3 linked regions of the Homo sapiens genome follow. The protein of the gene in region 1 interacts with the protein of each later gene in a pairwise test. Each region holds a gene or a part of one and is shown on either strand. Other genes may lie near its edges.

Region 1 (7,774 bases):
AAAGCAAAAACACAAATAGGGAAGGGGCACCCTATTCAACAAATGGTGCTGGGATAACTGTCTAGCCACATACAGAAGAATGAAACTGGATCCTCATCTCTTACCTTATACAGACATCAACTCAAGATGGATCAAACACTTAAATGTAAGACCTGAAACCATAAAAACTTTAGAAAATAACGCTGGAAAAACTCTTCTAGACATTGGCTTAGGCAAAGATTTTAAGACCAAAAACCCCAAAGCAAATCTAACAAAAACAAAAATAAATAGATATTACCTAATGAAAACACTTCGGCACAGCAAAATAATCAGCAGTGTAAACAGACACCTCACTGAATGGGAGAAAATATTCAACTATGCGTCCTACAAAGGACTAATATGCAGAATCTACAAGGAACTCAAATCAGTAAGAAAAAAAGAAATAATCCCATCAAAAAGTGGGCAAAGAACATGAATAGACAGTTCTCAAAAGAAGATACACAAATGACTAACACATGAAAAAGAATGCTCAACATCACTAATTATCAGGGAAATGCAGATTAAAACCACAATGAAATACCACCTTACTTCTGCAAGACTGGCCATAATTTACAAAGTCAAAAAATAGTAGATGTTTGCATAGATGTGATGAAAAGGGCACTTTTACACTGATGGTGGGAATATAAACTAGTACATCCACTGTGGAAAACTTTATGGAGATTCCTTAAAGAACTAAAAGTAAAACTACCATTTGATCCAGCAGTCCCACTATTGAGTATATATCCAGAAGAAAAGAAGTCATTATATGAAAAAGCCACTTGCATCTGCATGTTTATAGGAGCAAAATACACAATTGCAAAAATATGGAACCAGCCTAAATGCCCCTCGACTGACAAGTGGATAAAGAAAATGTGATATATTTACACCATGGAATACTACTCAGCCATAAAAAGGACTGAAGTAATGGCATTTGCAGCAATTTGTACGGGAGTTGGAGACCACTATTCCAAGTGAAGTAACTCAGGAATGGGAAACCAAATATCGTGTATGTTCTCACTTATAAGGGTTTGCTGAACTATGAGGATGCAAAGGCATAAGAATGATATAATGGGCCGGGTGCAGTGGCTCACAACTGTAATCCCAGCACTTTGGGAGGCCAAGGCAGGCGGATCATGAAGTCAGGAGATTGAGACCATCCTGGCTAACATGGTGAAACCCTGTCTCTACTAAAAATACAAAAAATTAGTCGTCGTGGCACGCGCCTGTAGTCCCAGCTACTCAGAGGTCTGAGGCAGGAGAATCGCTTGAACTTGGGAGGCAGAGGTTGCAGTGAGCTGAGATTGCGCCACTGCACTCTAGCCAGGGCGACAGAGCAAGACTGTCTCAAAAAAAAAAAAAAAATACATACATACATACATATATATATATATATATATATATATATATATATATAATGGACTTTGGGGACTCAAGGGAAAGTGGGAGGAGGGTGAGGGATAAAAGACTATACATTGGGTACAGTGTACACTGCTCAGGTGATGAGTACACAAAAATCTCAGAAATCACCACTAAATAACTTATCCATGTAACAAAAAAATGACCTGTTCCCCAAAAACTATTGCAATTTTTAAAAATGTAAACATTAGCCATGCGTGTTGATGCACACCTGTAGTCCCAGCTACTTAGGAAGCTGTGGCAAGAGTATCTCTTGAGCGTTGGAGGTCGAGGCTACAGTGAGCTATGATTGCACCACTGAACTTCATCCTGGGCAACAAAGTGAGCCCGTCTCAAACACACACACACACACACAACAAAAAATTGGTTTTGTCCTGGTACCTGGTTATTATAATTTGAAGCAGAAATTATTTTGTTTAGATTTTTTAATATTAAGAAGCATCTCCGTCGGGCGAGGTGGCTCACACCTCTAATCCCAGCACTTTAGGAGGCTGAGGTGGGCAGATCACCTGAGGTCGGGAGTTCAAGAACAGTCTGACAAACATGGAGAAACCCCGACTCTACTAAAAACACAAAATTAGCTGGGCATGGCGGCGCATGCCTGTGATCCCAGCTACTCAGGAGAGTGAGACACGAGAGTCACTTGAACCCAGGAGGCCAAGGTTGTGGTGAGCCGAGATCGCGCCATTGCACTCCAGCCTGGGCAACAAGAGCAAAACTGTCTCAAAAATAAAAAGTAAAAAAAAAAAAAGCATCTCTACTCACCATTAACTATACAATTAAGAGGTCACACCTTTGTTTCATCATCGTAGACAAGGTAAATATTACTAAAGAAAATGCCTGTCCATAAAAGGGATCTGGTGACAGAGGACAGCCTCTCCCAGAGTAACAGGCATCCAGGACTCCACTCTATCAACGATTTCTAAAACAATGGGTGTGAGCAAGGGCTAGGATGAGATGTGTGATTAAGTTCCTGAGCTGACGGCAAATTTAAAAGATGCCCTCTCAGCTCCTGGCTGCGGCCCATCCTCCCTGTAAGGTGCACGACTCCATGACGCTTTTCACTGACGGCACTACCTCTTGGCCATTACCACCTCCCACCAGATCCCATTCGCTCTGTTTTACCAGGGAAAGGTCTGCTCCAGTTAATGCCTTATCCTTCACAGTGATGTTCTTTGACTTTATAAAAACGGAGCCATTTGGTCAACAGGCTGCCCGTCGGATCCCGTGTCCTTCTGCACTGCTAATATCTAGCTGTGGCCCTGCTTTAAAACCCAAATGCAAACATCTCTTCCATGAAGCCCTTCCTGATTGCCAGTGCCCTCAACAGTGGAATAAGCTGCCAGGCATCTTAGAGATCTAGACCCGTGGTTCTCAACCCCCACTTCCCCAGGCCTCCTGAGAAGCTTTTAATAGGTGCATCAGCCCTGGATTCTTACCGGCAGGACTGAGAGGGAGCCTTAACGCTTGTGTTCTTCTAATAGTGTGCACAGGGTTGACGGGAAACACACACACACACAGTGCAGAACCATTCCACGAAGCTGTGTATCCGGAATTGGTTCCCTCTGAAGAGTTCCTGGTCCCGGTCCTGCCGCGGACCTTCACGGCATTATAGTTCTTAAACATGGTGTGTCCGGAGTTTGTTCCTTCAAATGTTCAGGTGTGTCCGAAGTTTTTTCTTTCTAGAGAGTTCGTGGTCTATGCACGACTTGATGAGTGAGGCCGCGGACCTTCGCAGGGAGTGTTACAGCTCTTAAAGGTGGCGCATCCGCGTTGTTCCTTCCTCCCAGCGGGTTCGTAGTTTCGCCGACCTCAGGAGTGAAGCCACAGACCTTCGCAGGGAGTGTTACACCTCTTAAAAGTGGTGCGTCTGGAGTTGTTTGCTCCTCCCTGTGGGTTCGTGGTGTCGCTGACTTCAGGAGTGAAGCCACAGACCTTCACAGTGAGTGTTATGGCTCTTAAAGGTGGCGGCTCCAGAGTTGTTTCTTGTGGTGGCTTCCTGGTCTCGCTGGTTTACAGGAGTGAACCTGCAGACCTTCACTGTGAGTGTTAAAGCTCATAAAGGTAGTGTGGACCTAAAAGGTGAGCAACAGCAAAATTTATTGCAAAGAGCGAAACAACAAAACCCCAACACCATCGAAGGGGACCCAAACGCAGCTGCCGCTGGCTCGGATGGCCAGCTTTTATTCCCTCATTGGCCCCGCCCACATCCTCCTGATTGGTCCTGCCCACATCCTCCTGATTGGTCCATTTTACAGAGCGCTGATTGGTCCATTTTACAGAGTGCTGATTGGTCCATTTTACAGAGTGCTGATTGGTCCGTTTTTACAGAGTGCTGATTGATGTGTTTACAAACCTTTAGCTAGACATAGAGCATTGATTGGTGCATTTACAATCCTTTGGCTAGAGAGAAAAGTTCTCCAAGTCCCCACCAATTAGCTGGACACAGAGCACTGATTGGTGCATTTTTACAGAGTGCTGATTGGTGTGTTTACAAACCTTTAGCTAGACACAGAGTGCAGATTGATGCTTTTACAATCCTTTAGCTAGACAGAAAAGTTCTCCAAGTCCCCATCCGACCCAGAAGCCCAGCGGGTTTCACCTCTCAGTAGCTTACAGAAGAGGACCCTGCTGCCACAGCACAATACCACAAAGAAAGTCATGCTCTCCTCAGCAGGTAGCCCCCTTCTCCGGGACAGGAACTTTGTTTCCTTCTTAGCTCTATCGCCAGCACCTAGAACAGTGCCCACCTGTCAGATCTGTTATCAGATGGGAACATGGCAGATTTGTTGAATGAATGAAGGAATGAATGAACTATGTGACACTCAAACTTAGCCACCAAACTTAAACTAAAAAAACTGGGTTGTGGTCCCTGATGGACCGTTGGCACCTTCTTCCTTTGCTGGACGGTGATCCGTGGCTGTTTCTGCGGTGTGTTCGCAGTGGTTGCCTGGCTTGGTAACAAACACTCTTCGGAGCCACAGCCTGTTCTCAGGGTCCTCGCCGCCTCCCAGGCCCTGCGATCTCTTTGCATCTCAGGAGGTCCAGGTTGGTTGCAGTCCTCTTGGGTGACTCAGGAACCAGCCTCTCCTGAAGCACACAGCTTAGGGAGTTCCTGAGGCCAGAGACATCTCCACGGGAAAGTCAAAGGCCTGGAGGAAGTGCGGACCTGACGACAGATGCCCCGCACGCTGGCCGGGACCGGGAAGGGCGGTCAAGGGTGGAAAGGGGCTGGCGGCTGCCAGGCCTGGCGGAGTGGAGCGGGGCGGGGCGCAGCGGGGCGGGGCGGGCCTGGAGCTGCACCTGCTTCTGGGCGGACGCACTTGGCGCGCGGCGCGGGCTGCAGACGGCTGCGAGGCGCTGGGCACAGGTCAGACGTCCGTACCCGCAGGGGGCTCGAACCTGGAGGAGGGCTCGAAGGGAGAGGGGGCCCCGCCAAGGAGCGGGGCTGTGATGGAGAGGAGGTTCCGACTCGCAGGGGACCTGCGGGGGAGGGGACGCGGACAGGGAGGGGCTCTGGGACAGGGGTGAAGGCTGCGCTAGGGGAGGACGGGAGGGGATGGAGGGCCCTGGTGTCGCGGAAGCCCAGCTGGGGCCCCCTCCGGGCTGCGGAACCGGTGCGCACACTACTCCCACCGCCCCCGAGTGCCTCTGTCCGGCTGGCCGCGGCCCTGGAACGAATATTGCTCAGTCCCCCGCGAGTCAGGTCTGCCGCGTTGCCCGGTGAGGGGAAGGTGTGAAGCCCCGGGCCTCCGTCTGCCCGGTGAGTCCGGGGACGCGCGCCCCCGGGGATGCCATCTGGCTCCTGGGCTGTGACCAGTCACAGCTCACATAGCTCTGGGCACTGGTACCGACTGCCTTTCCTTGTTAGCTGCGATACACAAATACACGAGCCAGATCCTTTCCTGAGGCCAGGAAGCCTGGAATCTAATAACACCGGGCGGTGGATAAAGTCCCCCGAGCCAGTGCTTAGCTTCCGTTAATGGAGCCATGGATGGAAGCGGATGTCAGGCGCAGTGGGGGAGAAATTTGCGGGGGTGGCCCTGTCTAGGGCCAGAGAAACAACCTCTGAAGCTTTGATCCAGCCCTAGAGGGAAGAAAGATGTGAGTTTCAGCCAGGGAAACGTAGCACTTTAAGAAATAGAAACCCTTTCAAAATTTGAGGGCAGGTAGCTCTCCTAAAAGTTGCAGAAATGGCCACTTCTTTTTTTTTTTTTTTTTTTTTTTGAGACGGAGTCTCGCTCTGTCGCCCAGGCTGGAGTGCAGTGGCGCAATCTCGGATCACTGCAAGCTCCACCTCCCGGGTTCACACCATTCTCCTGCCTCAGCCTCCCGAGTAGCTAGGACTACTGGCGCCCGCCACCACGCCCGGCTAATTTTTTGTATTTTTTTTTTTTTTGGTAGAGACGGGGTTTCACCGTGTTAGCCAGGATGGTCTCGATCTCCTGACCTCATGATCCACCCGCCTCAGCCTCCCAAAGTGCTGGGATTACAGGCGTGAACCACCGCGCCCAGCTAGAAATGGCCACTTCTTTCACGTTCTCTTCGACCGCTTTCTGCGGTGTCTGCCCTTTTCCTCCTCCTGCACCTTTTTGTCTCCTAGGGTCGCATAGCCTTCCAAACAGGCCTGCCTACAGCATTTTACCTGCAATTTTACACTCATTTTAATAGAAAGGATGGCTTATTGTTCATGAGAGACGTGTACTGTTTTTAACCAGATGTGTAATATCTTCAGTATAACCTGGATGTTGTGCAGTGGGAAGTTATGGAAAGAATCAGGACACGTGGTTAGGTAGGGGCCCAGGGGCGTCAGACTTAGCTCTTTGTGACAGTGAGCTTCTTGGTTTAATAAGGATATTGGCTCCCTCTGTTCCTGGGGTTTCTGGGAAAAGATATGGAACTGATATGAAGGTTTTATTGAATATGGCCCACTGATTTTACAAGTGGAGGTGACTGAGATAAGCAGAAGGTGAGGCATGACCTCTGGCTGTGCATTATTTGTTCTGATATTACAGGAGCCAAGCATTCCATTTCCTTCTTTTTAAAGAGCTTTGATTTCCTCTCACATCTTCATGAAGATGGAAACAGTGCCCCCACTTACTTATCCTCAGGCCACACCTGTTCCCATTTATTCCATGAGTTCCTCCCACACCCTTCTGGTTGATGTTGGTTGTGATGGTCGAGGTAATTGAATCTCACATTTGGCACCAGTTATTTCTGTTTCTCATCTCCCCCCTACCTGCAGTTAAACATCAGCTGCTATACTTAACTGTTCAAAGTACAGATGTTACCTGTGTTGGGTGTAATCAAAAGATTATCTCTTTTCCTCAAATGAAAAATGGGTGAGGACAGTTTCACCACACATAGAGTCACTCCCCTAGCCAAAGTCCTTGCTATTGCAAAACTTTTTACTGTAAGAGAATTAAAGTCACTAGTGTGTCATCAACTAATGGTACTTATAGACACATTCCATATTTGTTTCTATAGAAAGATCATAAGACAAACACTAGATTATTCCCAGTATGAGACCATACTGAATATGAACAATTAGAGGCCACAGGTGAGTGCTGTCCTCCTCACACTTTCTTTGAACTCTTAAGCTTCTACTCTTTTAACCAGCTACCCCTCTCCCCAAAACCTTCACTGAGGCTAGAAACAAACACAAATAGACTATTTGAATTTTAGCAAATTTTATCTCTCTTTTCTATTCTCTTGTGTAAAACTTAAATGGCCACAAGCTACACTACTGGAGGAAAAAGGAAAGCTAAAAGGTCTATCAGCCTTCTGTATGTGATGCAGAGTTCAACTGAATATAGCAAGGTACACACCCGCATTCTCCTTGCCAGGACTTAGATATCATAAGCCATTATCTTGCTGGTTGTTGAAATCATAATGGGGCTTTATAGAGCACAAGGCGATGTTTGTAAACAGCACTGTTCAGGTCAGATTAGAATCCGTATTTCAAAAATGAGGAGATGGAAACAGAGATATTGTGTATGTGGTCCAGGGTTAGCCAGTAATTAAATGGCAGAGCCAGAACTCAAACCAACATTCCTTCCAGAATACCACAGCTGCCTCTGGAGTGGTTTTTGTTGTTCTTGTTGAATTTTGTGATGGAAGATTGTGATTTGTTTTTCCCGAACACTTAATATGTTTTCTGACTTGAATTATCAGAATCTAAATTTAGAAACTCTCTCGTTTGGTATATTTCATGCCCATCTTTGTTCCATATAATTACAAAAATATCTTAGAGCTGAGTATAACCTTAAAGATTGTCAAGTCCAATCTTGTGGTTTTTCAAGGAAGAAAACCGGATTTAAGAAAAATAAAGCAAGTACCT
Region 2 (7,022 bases), 4.7 Mb from region 1:
TTTAACAAGAGTTGTTCATCACTCTAGCAAATCACATAACTGAAGGCAGCACAGCTCGTGGTATTTGAGTTGCCAGAACAACACACCTGCATAGTCTGCATTTGAAGCTTTTGCATTCATGGTGATTCTAAGTTTAGGTGCAAGCATCTGACTACTGTACTTCATTATGTATTCTAGTGTAGTCAGCCTGAACATTTGTATATTTAAACATATGCTATTTCATTACGAATTACTTTCCATTTAAAATCAACTTCTGTATATCATATAGAGATCTAGTTTTATTCTTTTCCTATTGGAGAATCATTTGTCCCAACACTATCTATGAAGTTCTTTACCCATTGAATCATAAAGCCAACTCTGTGCTGTAGGAAGTTCTCACAAATGCATGGATCTGTTTCTGGGTTCTTGATTTTATACCACTGGGCCATGTGTCTTTGTGCCACTATCACACTGTTTTAATTACTTTGGTTTTTCAATGTGTCTTGCGGCAGTTGGTAACAAGAAAGGCAAGTTGCCATCCTAGTTCTCAAAATTGTTTTGGCTATTCTTGGGTTTTTGCTCTTCCATATGAATTTAGGATCCGTTTTCAAGTTCCACAAAAAATTGTTTTTAGACTTTGGTTAGGATTGCATTGAATTTATAGGTTAAGGAAAATTGAGATTTTTTTAATTGAACCATCCCATCCGGGAACACAGGTTATTTCTCTGTTCAGGTCTGCTTTATTTCTTTATTCAGGTCCTCTCTCTCTCTTTTTTTTTTTTTTGTCTTTGATAAAGTTTTATAATTTTAGCTATACAAATCTTACTCATCTTTTATATTCATATTTATGCAGATATATATATATATATACACACATATCCACATCTTTTTATTATGAAAGTTTAAAATATATTCAGAAATATAGAAAATAGGCTAGCAAACATCTACACACTCATCACCCAGCTTCAACAACTAGCTCATGACCAGTCTTGTTTCATGTCAGCCCCTTCACCTCCTCTCACTGAGGTAATAGAAAGCTCCTAGAAACCCTTTTCTGTTATCTGTAATGTGCTACGTGTGTATGCATATATCTTTATCATAAATAATCTTTTAACAATATAATAATATCATCTTTTTAATAGTGTTTTTTCACTGAAAATACAAACAGTAATTTCATAATATTATCAAATATCTGAATATTCTTCAGATTTCCCCAATCATTTCATAAAAGGTTTTTGCAATGCTTCGTTCGAATCAGGACCAAATAAGGGTCCATATACTACACATGGCTGATACATCTCTTAATATTCTTTCTGTAAACATTTTAGTGAAGGGTAATACACATACAGAAAAGTATATAAATCCTAAGTGCATGGTTAGATACAACATCACCGTATGAACAAACCCAGGTGAACAAAACCCAGATCAAGAAACAGAATTTTATCAGCATCTCCCTGAACCTCCTACAGTCACTATGTTTCACAAGCCAACCATACGCCTGACCTCCAGCCCCTAAAATTAGTTTGACCTGTTTTGAACATTATATAAATGGACTCATATACTATGAACTCTTTAGCCTCTAGCTTTTTTCATTTAATATTTGTGAAATTCATCCACATTGTTGAGTATAGTTGTAGTGTGTTCTTTCTCATTGCTTTATACTATTCTCATTGCTTTATACTACATAATGCTTTATATACTGTATGAATGAATAGATTGTAGAGTACTATATCCACTCTATTGGCAGATATTTGGATTGTTTAAGGTTTTAGCTATTTCAGGTAGGGCTGCAATGTCTTTTTTTTGAATTTAGGTGTGCGTTTCTGTTGGGAATACACCTAAGAATAGAAGAGCTGGATGTAGGATGCATTTATATTTAGCTTTATTAGATACTGCCAATAGTCTCCAAAGCAGTGGTTAACAAATTATGGCCCTTGCCAGCCGTATATGAGGGTTCCAGTTACTCCACATCTTTGTCAACACTTGCTGTTGTCTGTTGTTTTCATGTTAGCCATTCTGGTGGGTATATGAAGGCACTGAATTTGGTTTTAATTTGCAATTTCCGGATGACTAATGAAGTTGAGCACCTTTTTACATATTTATTCTCATTCAGGTATCCTCTTTCTCAAGTGTTTATTCTTTTTTTATCTGCTTGATCTATCAGTTTCTGAGACATATATTAAAATCTCCTGCTAAATTAGTGGTTTTATACATTTATTGTAGTACTTCTGTCAGTTTTGGCTTTATATATTTGGAGGTTTTGTTGTTAGGTTCACATTTGTTTCAGGTTGTATCTTTTTACTGAATGGTTCCTTTTGTCACTGTTCTTAATATTTTTCAGAGCTTTACATCTGTTTTGCGTGGTACTAATATTGCTTCATAGCTTATATTTTATTTTGTTTCACTTGGTTTTTTTTCAACTGTGGCTTATAAAAAAACAAAAACAAAAACAAAAAAACAGAATTTCCTGTCTTAACCATTTTTAAGAGTGCAGATCAGCAGTGTTAAGTATATTCACAGTGTTGTGAAACAGAGCTCCAAGATGCTTTCATCTTGCAAAACTGAAACTCTATACTCATTCACCATCTCCCTATTCCCTCCTTCCCTGGTTTTTGTCTTGTTAATATTTGCTTTGCATGTCTTTCTCAATCTCTTTATTTTCAGCCTCTCATTATACTTTCTGTAGAGCTTTTGTACACAGCTATTTTTAAAAAGAAAAATCTAAGAGAATTTCTTTTAGTAGTCAAATATAATGTTTCCATGTACTATGATTACTGTTGTATTTGGGTTTATTTTTACAATCTTATTTTGTATTTTCCATTTTCCTTGCGTATTCTTTGTTCTGCCACCCACCTCACACCCACTGACCCTTGCCCCACTTTCTGTTTTCTTTATTTTTTTTTCACTTTACTAGTATAGAAGCTATTTTTTCTATTTCTGTTGCTTGCTGTTTACCTGTATGTTTTTTTAACTTGTGTACTTAGCTTAAAAAACATATACCTCCTCCAAAACAAAATCACTGTAGAATGCTTTAACTTTGAACTATCCTTTTCCATCTACCATATAACTGTTGAGTAATATTTAGTCCTTTCTGATTTTTAACCCCTCAAAAATTGTCATTATTACAGAAATCTTTACTGTCAATATTTCTTAATAATTTTCTCACCATGCTTCCTGTATCTCATACCTCCTTTCTTGGTTCATTTTCCTTCTTGCTGAAGTATGTCTCTGAGTAGCCCTTTCACTGAGGATCCTTGAGAGGTGTACTACATTTCACCCTTTGTATGTCTGAAAACATCTTTGTTTTACACTTACTCTTGAGGGAGTCTTGCATGCCAGCCTGTGGGTTTAGTTTTGTCTCTGCTGGGATCCAATGGGTTCTCACTTTTAGTCTAGTTTTCATGTTAATCTTTCTATTTGGGATTCCCATATCACATCGGTAGTATTGAATCTCACACATGGATATGATGTGAGGTGGGGATTCAGATTTCTCTTGGGCTGTTGTTTTTTGACCTGTGGCCTGAAGCACTCAGCCAGCTTCCTTCCAACTAAGTCAGTAGCAAATTATTTAGACCCTATTTCAAAAACTGGTCAATCCTGTGAGGGCCCAGCTTTCTGCATTGTTCTCATTGCTAGTTCTTTGCCATCGTGGGCTTGAGACCTTATCTGCCCTGAAGAGAATCACCCTGAAGGTCTGTATCAGGCACCAGGACCCTCGTAGACTTTTAGGCTCAGCTCAGGCCTTGAGTTACATTTTTTTATAGCACTTAATGATTTTTCTTTATTGCTTTCGAGCTCTGCTGTGTACTAAATTCTTCTTGTTCTATTTTATTGAACATTTATGTGTTTGCTGTTGTATGAGGCACTTCCCTTGTTAACTTCCATCCAGCATATTGACCAGAGGTTACAGTCATCTTTCTAAAACTCCATATGATCCTTTCACTCCCTCACCTGATGTTTGTGGACTTGTTAGCACTGTGTCATTTATTCCTCCCACAGATACTTGTTGTGCATAATCTCTGTGCTAAGAACTGGGGTTACCACAGTGAGAAAGATATCAGGTCTCTGCCTTCGTGGAGTTTACTATTCTAGTTGGACAGACAGAAAATAAACTTGTAAACAAATAAATGAAAATATTAACTAGTTTTGTGAAAAATGCTCTGAAGGAAATAGAGTGATGGAGAGTCAGTGTTTGAGGGGTTACTTTAGAGAAGACACTCGGGGAAGACCTCACTGAAGAGTGACATTTAAGCAGAAATCAGAAGGCTGAGGAAAGCCAGTCCTACAAATAGTAGCAGGAGTGCTTGGGGTTGAGGGCTAGTTCCAGGCAGTGGAAACAGCAAGTACAAAGACCCAGAGATGGGGAAACCCCGGGCGTGTTAGAGTGACCGAGATGGCGCCCATGTGGCCCTAATGAGGGCAGACTGCTCCCCAGAGAAGTTAGGCATGCAGGTGGGCCCCAGGTCCCATCTCCCCTCACTCTGTCATCTTTTCACTCTGATTCTTTCCTAAATGTGCCTGTGCAGAGTATTTCCTTTGTAAAGCCCCTCTCACTATTGCAGTTCCCACTGCACTTCGCTTTTACCATTAATCAGAATGTAATATGGACACTTGTTTTCAGGACAATGTTCTCCAATAGACCTTGAGCTTCTGTCAGAAGATATCTTATTCACCTTTGGCATCCCCAGCTTGTAGCGCAGTGCTTTACATGGTGGGAACATCATAAATGTTGATTCAATAAACGTATTTTTTTTACCAGTTCATGCTTAGACCCTCCTTTCCAATAACTTTATAACTTCTCATAGCTAATATTTTCGTGGTATTTAAACCATAAGGGTAAAGAAAACCAGCAACCTAGAGGAATGTGTTTGCTTAAGACTTGTCTCCAATGCTGAAAAGGAAAACCAGGAGAGGTAGTGTGGTGTGCTGTTCCTCTGCTGTGAGTTGAATGGTGGTCCCCAAAAATATATGTCCGCATCCTCACCCCTGGAATCTGTGACCATGACCTTGTTTGACAAAAGGGTCTTTGCAGATTTAATTAAGTTAAGCATCTCAAGATAATACTAGATTATTTGTACAGACCCTAAATCCAATGACAAGTACCGTTATAAGAGACAGAAAATGTGAAGACAGACACAGGAGAATGCCATGGGAAGATGGAGGCAGAGACTGGAGTTGTGAGTTAAAAGCCAGTGAATGGTGCCTGGAGCTACCAGAAGATGGAAGAGGCAGGGAAAGATTCTCCCCTAGAGCACTGATCCCCAATCTTTTTGGTACCAGGGACTGGTTTCATGGAAGACAGTTTTTCCACAGGGGGATGCAGGGGGGTGGTTTCCGGATGAAACTGTTCCACCTCAGATCTTCAGGCATTAGATTCTCATAAGGAGCCTGCAACCTAGATGCTTCGCACGTGCAGTCCACACTAGGGTTCGTGCTCCTGTGAGAACCTAATGCCGCTGCCACTGATAGGACAGGAGGCGAAGCTCAGGTGGTAAGGCTGGCTTGCCTGCTGCTCACCTCCTCCTGTGCGGCCCAGTTCCTAAAAGGCCATGGACCAGTACCAGTCCATGGCCCAGGGGTTGGGGACCCCTGCCCTAGAGCCTTTGGAGGGAGCACAGCCCTGCTGACACCTTTATTTTGGATTGCTGGCCTGTGAGAAAATAAATTTCTATTTTGAGCTGCTAATTAGGAAACTAATAGATACCCCATCGCGCTTATATCTCACTTACCCATCCTGTAACATGGCTATAGTAATACCTTTCTCAGAAGCTTCGCTCCGGGATTCAATGAGATATGTTTGTACGGCACTTAGCACACAGTGAATGTTCAAAAATAGTGATGGCTGTTCCTCTTCTTTAAGGACTGGGAGTTTTCATCCTCTTGAATAAGAACTCGACAACAGAGTGGGAACTTTCTGTCTTGTGATCCATTGCCTGGTGAGTCACAGCTCACACCATGGATTTAACCTGAGAGCTTCAACTTCTGCTTTGGCCCTGGAGTTCCCATGCCCTGGTGTCTTCTACCAGTTCTTAGGTAGGGTTTTATATTCAGAGAGGGTTCAGCTTTCTCCCGTGGGCTGGGGGAAGAGGTCAAAGTAGAACTCAGGTACCAAATTTGAAAGGAAACACTCAGAAAAAACTTCTGAGCGCAGAGCGGAAAACACCCTCTCAGTCCCCACCAAAGAGAAAGGCTTTGGGTTCTAAATTTCCAGTTTCCATTAAGGGACTCTGGGACTGGACATTTCTGAAAATTAATGACCTGTACTGAGTAATCCTCCTAACACACTGATCATCAAAAAATAACCTGTAATGAGTTTAGGCTTTCTGTATTTGTCTGAATGCTTTCACGGGAGTGTGTTGCACTGGAGCACAGAGGACACTCGATCGTGCGGCGCGCAGGGCGGGGGGCCGCCGCTGCCTCCCCGCGGGATGGCTGGCACTGTGCTCGGAGTCGGTGCGGGCGTGTTCATCTTAGCCCTGCTCTGGGTGGCAGTGCTGCTGCTGTGTGTGCTGCTGTCCAGAGCCTCCGGGGCGGCGAGGTAAGGCATTCTGTCCAACTGGGAGTCCTAGGTAAAGCAATTAGAGGCAAAATCGCTGATGCTCACTAAACATTTAGAATTTAAGAGATCAGTTTTGTAATTACTGGCAGTTTGAATGAGTTGCATTTTAACCTCTTTTTATAAACACTAACTGTGTTATTTATGCTCTGGAGCAGAGATGGGAGGAGAAGGAAGTAGTGTTCTTGAGTTCTAACTGTGGCAAGAAACTCTGCTTTCACTGCTTATTGAGTTTCTTGAGGCTGTATGTGTATGTGTTTATGAATTGTTCAGATTTATGGCAGAGGCTTGGTCCAGTACCCGAGGCTCTAGCCCTGGACCCAGGAAAACGAAAGCAACATTTGATGAGTTGGGCCTGCTTTCTATATCAGGCATTGCCTTCAGAACAGGGTTAGGCCATAAACCGACTCTGAAAACACTAGAGTTGCACTCTGGCAAGACAGTGTTAGTATGAAGCAGAGAGTTGTAGAATTTTCTAAAGTATTCT
Region 3 (7,436 bases), on another chromosome or scaffold:
CTCATCATAACTCCCCAAGGAGGACTACTTATTAATACCTCTGTATCTCTTGATACTGCATCATTTGTGTATTTGTGTTTGGGAGTGGACAGTATTATTTAAAATATTTTTTCTGGAATAGATAACTAATTGCCCCAAAATAATTTACTGAATAATCCATTATTCCTTCCTTAATTTGAAATGTTACCTTTATTATAAAATAAACGCTTGGATATGTATATACCAGATCCATGTCTGGAGTCTGCATTATTTTTTCATTGATCCATTTGTTGATTTCTGCATGTCAAGTGCCAAATGTTTTACATTATTATAGCTCTTTACAGTGTGTCTTGATATCTAGTAGGCCAATCTTATGAGGAAAAACAATGTTATTTTTGCTTTATTTTGCGTATCCCATAGGGCCATTAAGATTGAACCATCCTTTCATTTTGCTTGGTCTCAAGTTTTCTCTTTTGAGGATGCCCAATTCATATCCTTTAATCATTTGTCAATTACATATATTGGAGAATTCCTTCTTCCAGGTATTTCAACTTTATTTACAGTGTCATTCATATGAATGAAGCTTTTCATCTGGATGCAGTTAAATTTTCAATCTTTCCTTCTATGGCTTTTAATTTTAATAACTTGCTAAAAGGTTTCCTTCCCCTCCCTCAAAAGTTGTAAAACTATTCTCCCAGACTTTCTTCATTATTTTTCATATTTAGGTCACTAATCCATCTAGACAGGGGGATAAAAATGTCCAGGGATGAGATATTTCTCTGCCAATTCAGATGGGACAGCAGTGTAGGGTGCCTGGACCTTAGAGAATTCAGTCACCCCTGCCGTGTGTGAAGGGTGACTGTAATGAAGAAAGGAATGCCTTCTGAACATCCAGTTGACTGTAAGTTCTTCATGAATTTACATAAACTACTCACATCTGAACAAAGATCTTCTGGTACTGTCTTCTGGATTCCTTATCTGTGCGTGAGGGGCTAACAGTAAGATGTTTAGTGTTGAGCTGTTGGTGGCCAGGTACAGCCTCTAACTATAATCCCAGCACTTTGGGAGGCTGAGGTGGAAGGATTACTTAAGGCTGGGAGTTTGAGATCTGCCTGGGCAACATAGTGAAGCACCGTCTCTATTAAAAAAAAAAAAAATAGTGTGGAGTTGGAAGACATAGGACACTAAGTAACAGGCTGGGCTCCAAGCAGGGTTGTAGAAGACATGAAACTAAAACCTAGCTCCCTGTAGTCTGTTGACTGAAGCCATTTTGCCTCTCCAACATTTCTTGTAGCATGAATAATTTCTCCAATATCTCCCTCGTTGCAGATTTAATACCTAAATAGAAATACTGAAAAACGGCAGCCTAAAATTGGGGAAGTTCTTGAAACTTTTGGTAAGGTAGGCTGGGTATGGTGGCTCACACCTGTAATCTCAGCACTTGGGGAAGCCAAGGCAGGTGGATCACCTGAGGTCAGGAGTTTGAGACCAGCCTGGTCAACATGGCGAAACCCCATCTCTACTAAAAATACAAAAAATTAGCTGGGTGTGGTGGCATGTGACTGTAGTCCCAGCTACTAGAGAGAGTGTGGCAGGAGAATCACTTGAACCCAGAAGGCCAAGGTTGCAGTGAGCTGAGATTGCGCCATTGCACTACAATCTGAGCAATAGAGTGAGACTCTGTCTCAAAAAAAAAAAAAAGTTTTGGTATGGTAAAGGCTTGATCAGAACTGTACTTGAAAAAGATGATCCTGTTATTTGTCAGACAGATTCAATAAAGGGACTGCATGTGGGCTGAAGTGGCAGGAAGTAGGAAGGAGTGACTGACTCATGAGACAGTGGAGATGAAGCCATGATTTAATCTAGAAGGATTAGATATTGTATTACCCAATCAGTAGAACTCTTGACAGCTGATTAGTCTGCAATCTTTATATGATATGGGGGAAGTCAAAGCAAGGAATCTGGGTACAAGGTAGAAAGAAAGTGCTGTTCACATAGAGTAGGCCGGGCGAGGTGGCTCATACTTGTAATCCCAACACTTTGGGAGGCCGAGGCAGGCAGATCACCTGAGGTCAGGAGTTCGAGACCAGCCTGGCCAACATGGTGAAACCCCGTCTCCACAATTAGCCAAGCGTGGTGGTGCACACCTGTAATCCAAGCTACTCAGGAGGCTGAGACAGGGGAATCACTTGAAGTGGGGAGGCAGAGGTTGCAGTGAGCCGAGATCGCAACACTGCACTCCAGCCTGGGCAACAAGAGCAAAACTCCATCTCAAAAAAAAAAAAAAAAAAAAAAAAAACCACAGACAGGGTAGCCTTGGTGAGGATGGACTCTGTGGATAATGATAATGGACTTCTTGTCTTTGAGGTGTGAGTAATCTTTGGTAAAGGTGACCAACTGGGAAGAGGTGAGGGCTGAAGAGATTATTTTAGTCAGCTGAAGGTGAAAATTGAATCTGATAGGTACTGAAAACACAAAGAAGATAATAAGCAAAACTTATTCTAGGAGAGAAGAAAGAAAAGGAAAGCTGAGAAAACAAGGAGTTATTCAGAAGGAGGAGAAGAATAAAGAGGGTGGTGTGATCAAGGATGATAAGGACTAAGAAAACACCAATTGTTACAATTGTTACTGTTAATCTTGATATTCAAGAGCACTGTGGTCTACCTGGGAAATGGATTTCCTCACATATTCTGAAATTCATTCTTTAAGACTTTATATCCCAAGATACTCACGTAAAAAATGAGGAAAGAGAACCTTGGTTGGTTCCAGAGTGCCCTCTCTGGAACTGGAACACTCAGCTGCCAATTGTTTTCCAGTATTCCTCACCCACTTGGGCATGACAGGACCCTGTGCTGTTTCTTCTTCTTTGAAATAAGGACAATAGTTTACTGCCTAGGATTGTTTTAAGAATTAAATTAGTTAATTATTGTATAGTACTTAGAACAATGCCTTGAACATAGTAGGTGTTCAATAAATACCAGCTACAGTATAGTAACTTTTTTTTTTTTTTTTTGACGGAGTCTCACTCTATAGCCCAAGCTGAAGTGCAGTGATTGGATCTCGGCTCACTGCAACCTCCGCCTCCGGTGCTCAAGCAATTCTCGTGCCTCAGCCTCCCAAGTAGTTGGGACTATAGACACGCGCCACCACCCCCAGCTAATTTTTTGTATTTTAGTAGAGACAGGGTTTCACCATGTTCTCCAGGGTGGTCTCGAACTCCTGAGCGATCCACCCACCTCGGCCTCCAAAAGTGCCAGGATTATAGGCTTGAGCCACTGCGCTTGGCCAGTAACCCATTTTTAAGGCCCAGGTGAAATAGTTTTTCTATTTCTATGATTTTCTATTTCTATGATTAAATAGTGTTTAATCAGACACTTCAGCTGCATATACCTCCCACAGCTCATTGATGATACAACAGTTCGCACAGGGCCTGGCACACATGCTAAAGGCTCAGCAGTATTGATAATCACCCACACTTACAAAGCACTATGGGCCAGACACTGCTGTGCTTTCTTTACAGATATCAACTCATTTAACCCACCCTAAAAACCCTGAGGTTCCCAAAACTGGCATATCCTCATGTTACAGATACAGAAACTAAGACACAGCCGGGCTAAGTAATTAATCTAAGCTTACACAAATAGCCGAGACAGAGCCAGGACTTAAATCCAGGCAGCCTGTTTCACAGTCCCTGCTCATAACCATGGTGCTGTATAGTTCCAAACATCTTAACTAATGAGGACAGCATTATTTCTCAAGGTGCACAGCACAGAGAACTTCAAAAATTAGACTCTTAGTAAAACACCATCTTTTTTTTTTTTTTTTGAGACAGGGTCTTGCTGTGTTGCCCAGGCTGGAGTGCAGTGGCGTGATCTGGGCCCACTGCAACCTGCACCTCTCAGGTTCAAGAGAGTCTTGTCTCAGCCTCTGGAGTTGCTGGGACTACAGGCAGGCACCACCGCGCCCAGCAAATTTTTTGTATTTTTAGTACAGACGGGGTTTCACCATGTTGACCACGCTGGTCTCAAACTCCTGACCTCAAGTGATCTGCCCGACTCGGCCTCCCAAATTGCTGGAATTTATTCCAACACCTCATTCATTCATTCATTCATTCGAGACAGAGTCTAGCTATGTTACCCGGGCTGGTCTCAAACTCCTGGGCTCAAGGGATCTTTCTACCTCAGCCTCCCAACGTGCTGAGATTACAGGGACACGCCACCGCGCCAGCCCGAACATCTTTATCTTAAACCCAGAAAAGTGACAGGAGTGTCTCCCCTACAAGATGATGACCAGCCCTCCAGACCTGAGCCCAGGTGTGATTCCAAGGCCCCTGTACTGGGGCCAGACAGGGAGACTCGCTCTCAGGGACTTCCCAACCAGCACCATCTTCTCCCTGCGGGGATGGCGAGGGAGCGCGGGCCGGCCCCGGCCCTGCCTCCGCGCTCGCGCTCGACGGTGTCCTGAAGCGCGCTCCCGGGGAGGTGTTGCAGCCATGGCTACGGCAGCCGGCGCGACCTACTTTCAGCGAGGCAGTCTGTTCTGGTTCACAGTCATCACCCTCAGCTTTGGCTACTACACAGTAAGGACAGCCGCTGGAGCGCTACGGTCTGACGAACGAGCGAGCGCTCGGTTCACCCCAGGACCTGGGCTCACAGGCCGCGGGCCGGGGGAAGTCGTGCAAGCACAATCCCGACTCCCGCGCGCTAGGAGCGGAGGGGAGGGGACCAGACTCCGCAATGAGAGCAAGCATACTGGTCCGCCAGGGTCTTGGGCGGGCGCCCAGGGCCCTGAGAAACCGGCTAGCCAGGCTTTTCTTATATGGGGGCGGGGACGGCTGGGGAGCTCCCAGCCAACTCTGTGTCTGGGTTTTTCAAGAGGATGGTGAAGTCGGAGGCCAGCAATGCGGCTACCGCCTATTTCCGTCCAGCAAGACCCTTGCCCTCTCTGGTCACAGTCCTGGGGCTGGGCTACTTCGCGGTGAGGCGTGGGGTGGGGCGGGGCGGGCCTCTGTTTTGGCCCGCCGGGCCCTCGTAGGGCGAGGGGAGCTCTGGGAACGGGGCCTGTGCGCACGCGCATCTGACGGTTGTCTCGGTTACTCATGTAAGCGGAAATTCGGTGGGCTCTTAGGATAGTTTCTGCTTTCTAGTGTTCCTGTCTTTGGGTCCTCACCTCTGCATGGTTACTAACGGGTTATCCGAGCCTAAGCCTCTCACGAAGCGGAAAGTCAAGTTAACAGACTGCCATAGGCCTGCCAAGTCAGAATAGGGCTTCCGAAGCAGAATGTTTGAGCCAATAGGAATTGTTTGGAAAACGGGGATAAATCTAAAGGATGGGTAGGATTTAAGTGGTAAGGGAGGATAAAGAGGCTATAACTGTTCTGACATAGGTGTGGAAGCAAGAAGAAAGCTGTACCTAGAAAAAGAGCGACGTTTGTTTGGCTGAGAAATAATCTGTTTAAAGGATAACGAGAAAGATGCGTGGAAAAGTAGGTTGGGGGCTAAGGTGGTAGTTTTGTGTTTTTTTGAGACGGAGTCTCGCTCTGTCACCCAGGCTGGAGTGCAGTGGGGCGATCTCGGCTCACTGCAACCTCTGCTTCCCAGGTTCAAGCGATTCTCATGTCTTTACCTGTAGCTGGGATTACACTATGCCCAGCTATTTTTTTGTGTTTTTAGTAGACATGGGTATTGGTGAGGCTGGCCTCGAACTCCTAACGTCAAGTGATAAGGTGGTAAAATTTTGAAGGAAGGCGAAGCTATTTGGGTATACCAATAGATCCTGGAGATTGGAGATTTGTCTTGTCCACAGTGTTGTTTGTTGGTGTCAAATCTGACAACCTATGTCCTGATTTCCCCATATGTACAATGGAGGTGTTGAACTGAAAATTTTCAAAGGTGCATTTCTGTTCTACGATTTAGTGTCTGTGACTAGTTAGAATATAGTTGGAGGAAAGCTTTGGGGACTTCAAATTGGGATCTTGTGGAGCTGGCAGATGCTCCCCTTTCCCTTTGGTTTGGGAGGATGCAGTGATATTTGTGCATTATTTAACTTTCAGATGTGAAACAACATCGTGAGAGAGGTAGTACTGCTCTTGACAAAGATTTGAATGGGACAATACATTTTGAAACTGTTGAGTTATTCTCAGAAAAGTCTTAGCTGACAGAAGTTACAATACAGAGGCTGAAAGTTAAGATTACGAAAAATTTATGTGATTAAGCAGTTGCTATTAAAATGTCACAACCTTATCTCACTTATTTTCCATCTCTATGCAGTGGATCATTCTCAGTTTTAGCCGTACAAAAAGGGAAAGCCGAGAAAGGAATTCTAAATTAAACAGAGGTTTGGCTGGAGCCAGTTTCTGCAGTAAAGAAACTAGCCAAAGCACATAAACTCAAAATTTGCTAATATCTTTTATAAAATAATGGTTTTGGTGGAATGTATTAATAGGAGTCAGCCAGGCATGGTGGTTCACCCCTGTAATCCCAGCACTTTGGGAGGCCGAGGCGGGCAAATCGCTTGAGCCCAGGAGTTCGAGACCATCCTGGGCAACATGGCAAAACCTCATCTCTACACACACACACACACACAAAATTAGCCATGGGCAGTGGCTCACACCTGTAATCCCAGCACTTTGAGAAGCCGAGAAGGGCGGATCACCTGATGTCAGGAGTTGGAGATCAGCCTGGCCAACATGGTGAAACTCTGTCTGTATTAAAAATACAAAAATTAGCTGGGCGTGGTGGCATGCACCTGTAGTCCCAGCTACTCTGGAGGCTGAGACAGGAGAGTCGTTTGAATCCGCGAGGCGGAGGTTACAGAGAGCCGAGATCGTGCCACTGCACTCCAGCCTAAGCGACAGAGTGAAACTCCATCTAAAATAAATAAATAAATAAATAAATTAGTCAGTCGTGGTAGCCATGCCTGTATTCCAGCTACTTGGGGAAGCTGAGTTGGGAGGATCGCTTGAGCCCGGGAAGTCAAGGGTGCAGTGAGCCGTGATCAGGCCACTGCACTCAAGCCTGGGTGACAAAGCGAGATCCCTTCTCTACAAAGAAAACAAAAGAAGAAAAGGAAGAAAAAAAGACTTTAAGAGTCATCCACCGTGGGCACTGAGTCTGATAACCACATACTTTCCTCAGCATAAGTCTCCCAGTAGAGTTGCTTTTAGAAAATAGAAGTCATCCTGGCACAGTAGGTCATGCCTGTAATCCCAGCACTTTGGGAGGCCAAGATTGGAGAATTGCTTGAGCCCTGGAGTTGGAAACCATCCTGGGCAACATAGTGAGACCCCATCTCTATATACAATTTTTAAAAGTAGCTGGGCATGGTGGCACACACGTGTAGTCCCATCTACTTGGGAGGCTGAGGTGGGAGGATGGATTGAGCCCAGATGGTGGAGGCTGCAGTGAGTCATGATCATGCCACTGCACTCCAGCCCCAGCAGCGGAGTGAGACCCTGT

Evidence for each region. Proteins that work in one complex are often made in the same cells at the same time.
Region 2: the proteins of TMEM45B (region 1) and TMEM218 interact in binary tests that used the Homo sapiens proteins (3 or more experiments, as listed by UniProt).
Region 3: the proteins of TMEM45B (region 1) and TMEM254 interact in binary tests that used the Homo sapiens proteins (3 or more experiments, as listed by UniProt).

The regions. Positions count from the first base shown.
Region 1 is NC_000011.10:129,811,095-129,818,868, forward strand, and holds the start of TMEM45B (transmembrane protein 45B), read left to right. Parts: upstream 1-4,753; 5' UTR 4,754-4,804; exon of another isoform or gene 4,805-5,197; intron 5,198-7,774.
Region 2 is NC_000011.10:125,101,627-125,108,648, reverse strand, and holds part of TMEM218 (transmembrane protein 218), read left to right. Parts: intron 1-5,839; 5' UTR 5,840-5,915; exon of another isoform or gene 5,916-5,983; coding exon of another isoform or gene 5,984-6,012; intron 6,013-6,297; exon of another isoform or gene 6,298-6,331; coding exon of another isoform or gene 6,332-6,407; coding exon 6,408-6,517; intron 6,518-7,022. UniProt on the Homo sapiens protein: May be involved in ciliary biogenesis or function.
Region 3 is NC_000010.11:80,074,229-80,081,664, forward strand, and holds the start of TMEM254 (transmembrane protein 254), read left to right. Parts: upstream 1-4,436; 5' UTR 4,437-4,471; coding exon 4,472-4,558; exon of another isoform or gene 4,559-4,797; coding exon of another isoform or gene 4,798-4,956; exon of another isoform or gene 4,957-4,965; intron 4,966-5,016; exon of another isoform or gene 5,017-5,452; coding exon of another isoform or gene 5,453-5,464; intron 5,465-7,411; coding exon of another isoform or gene 7,412-7,436.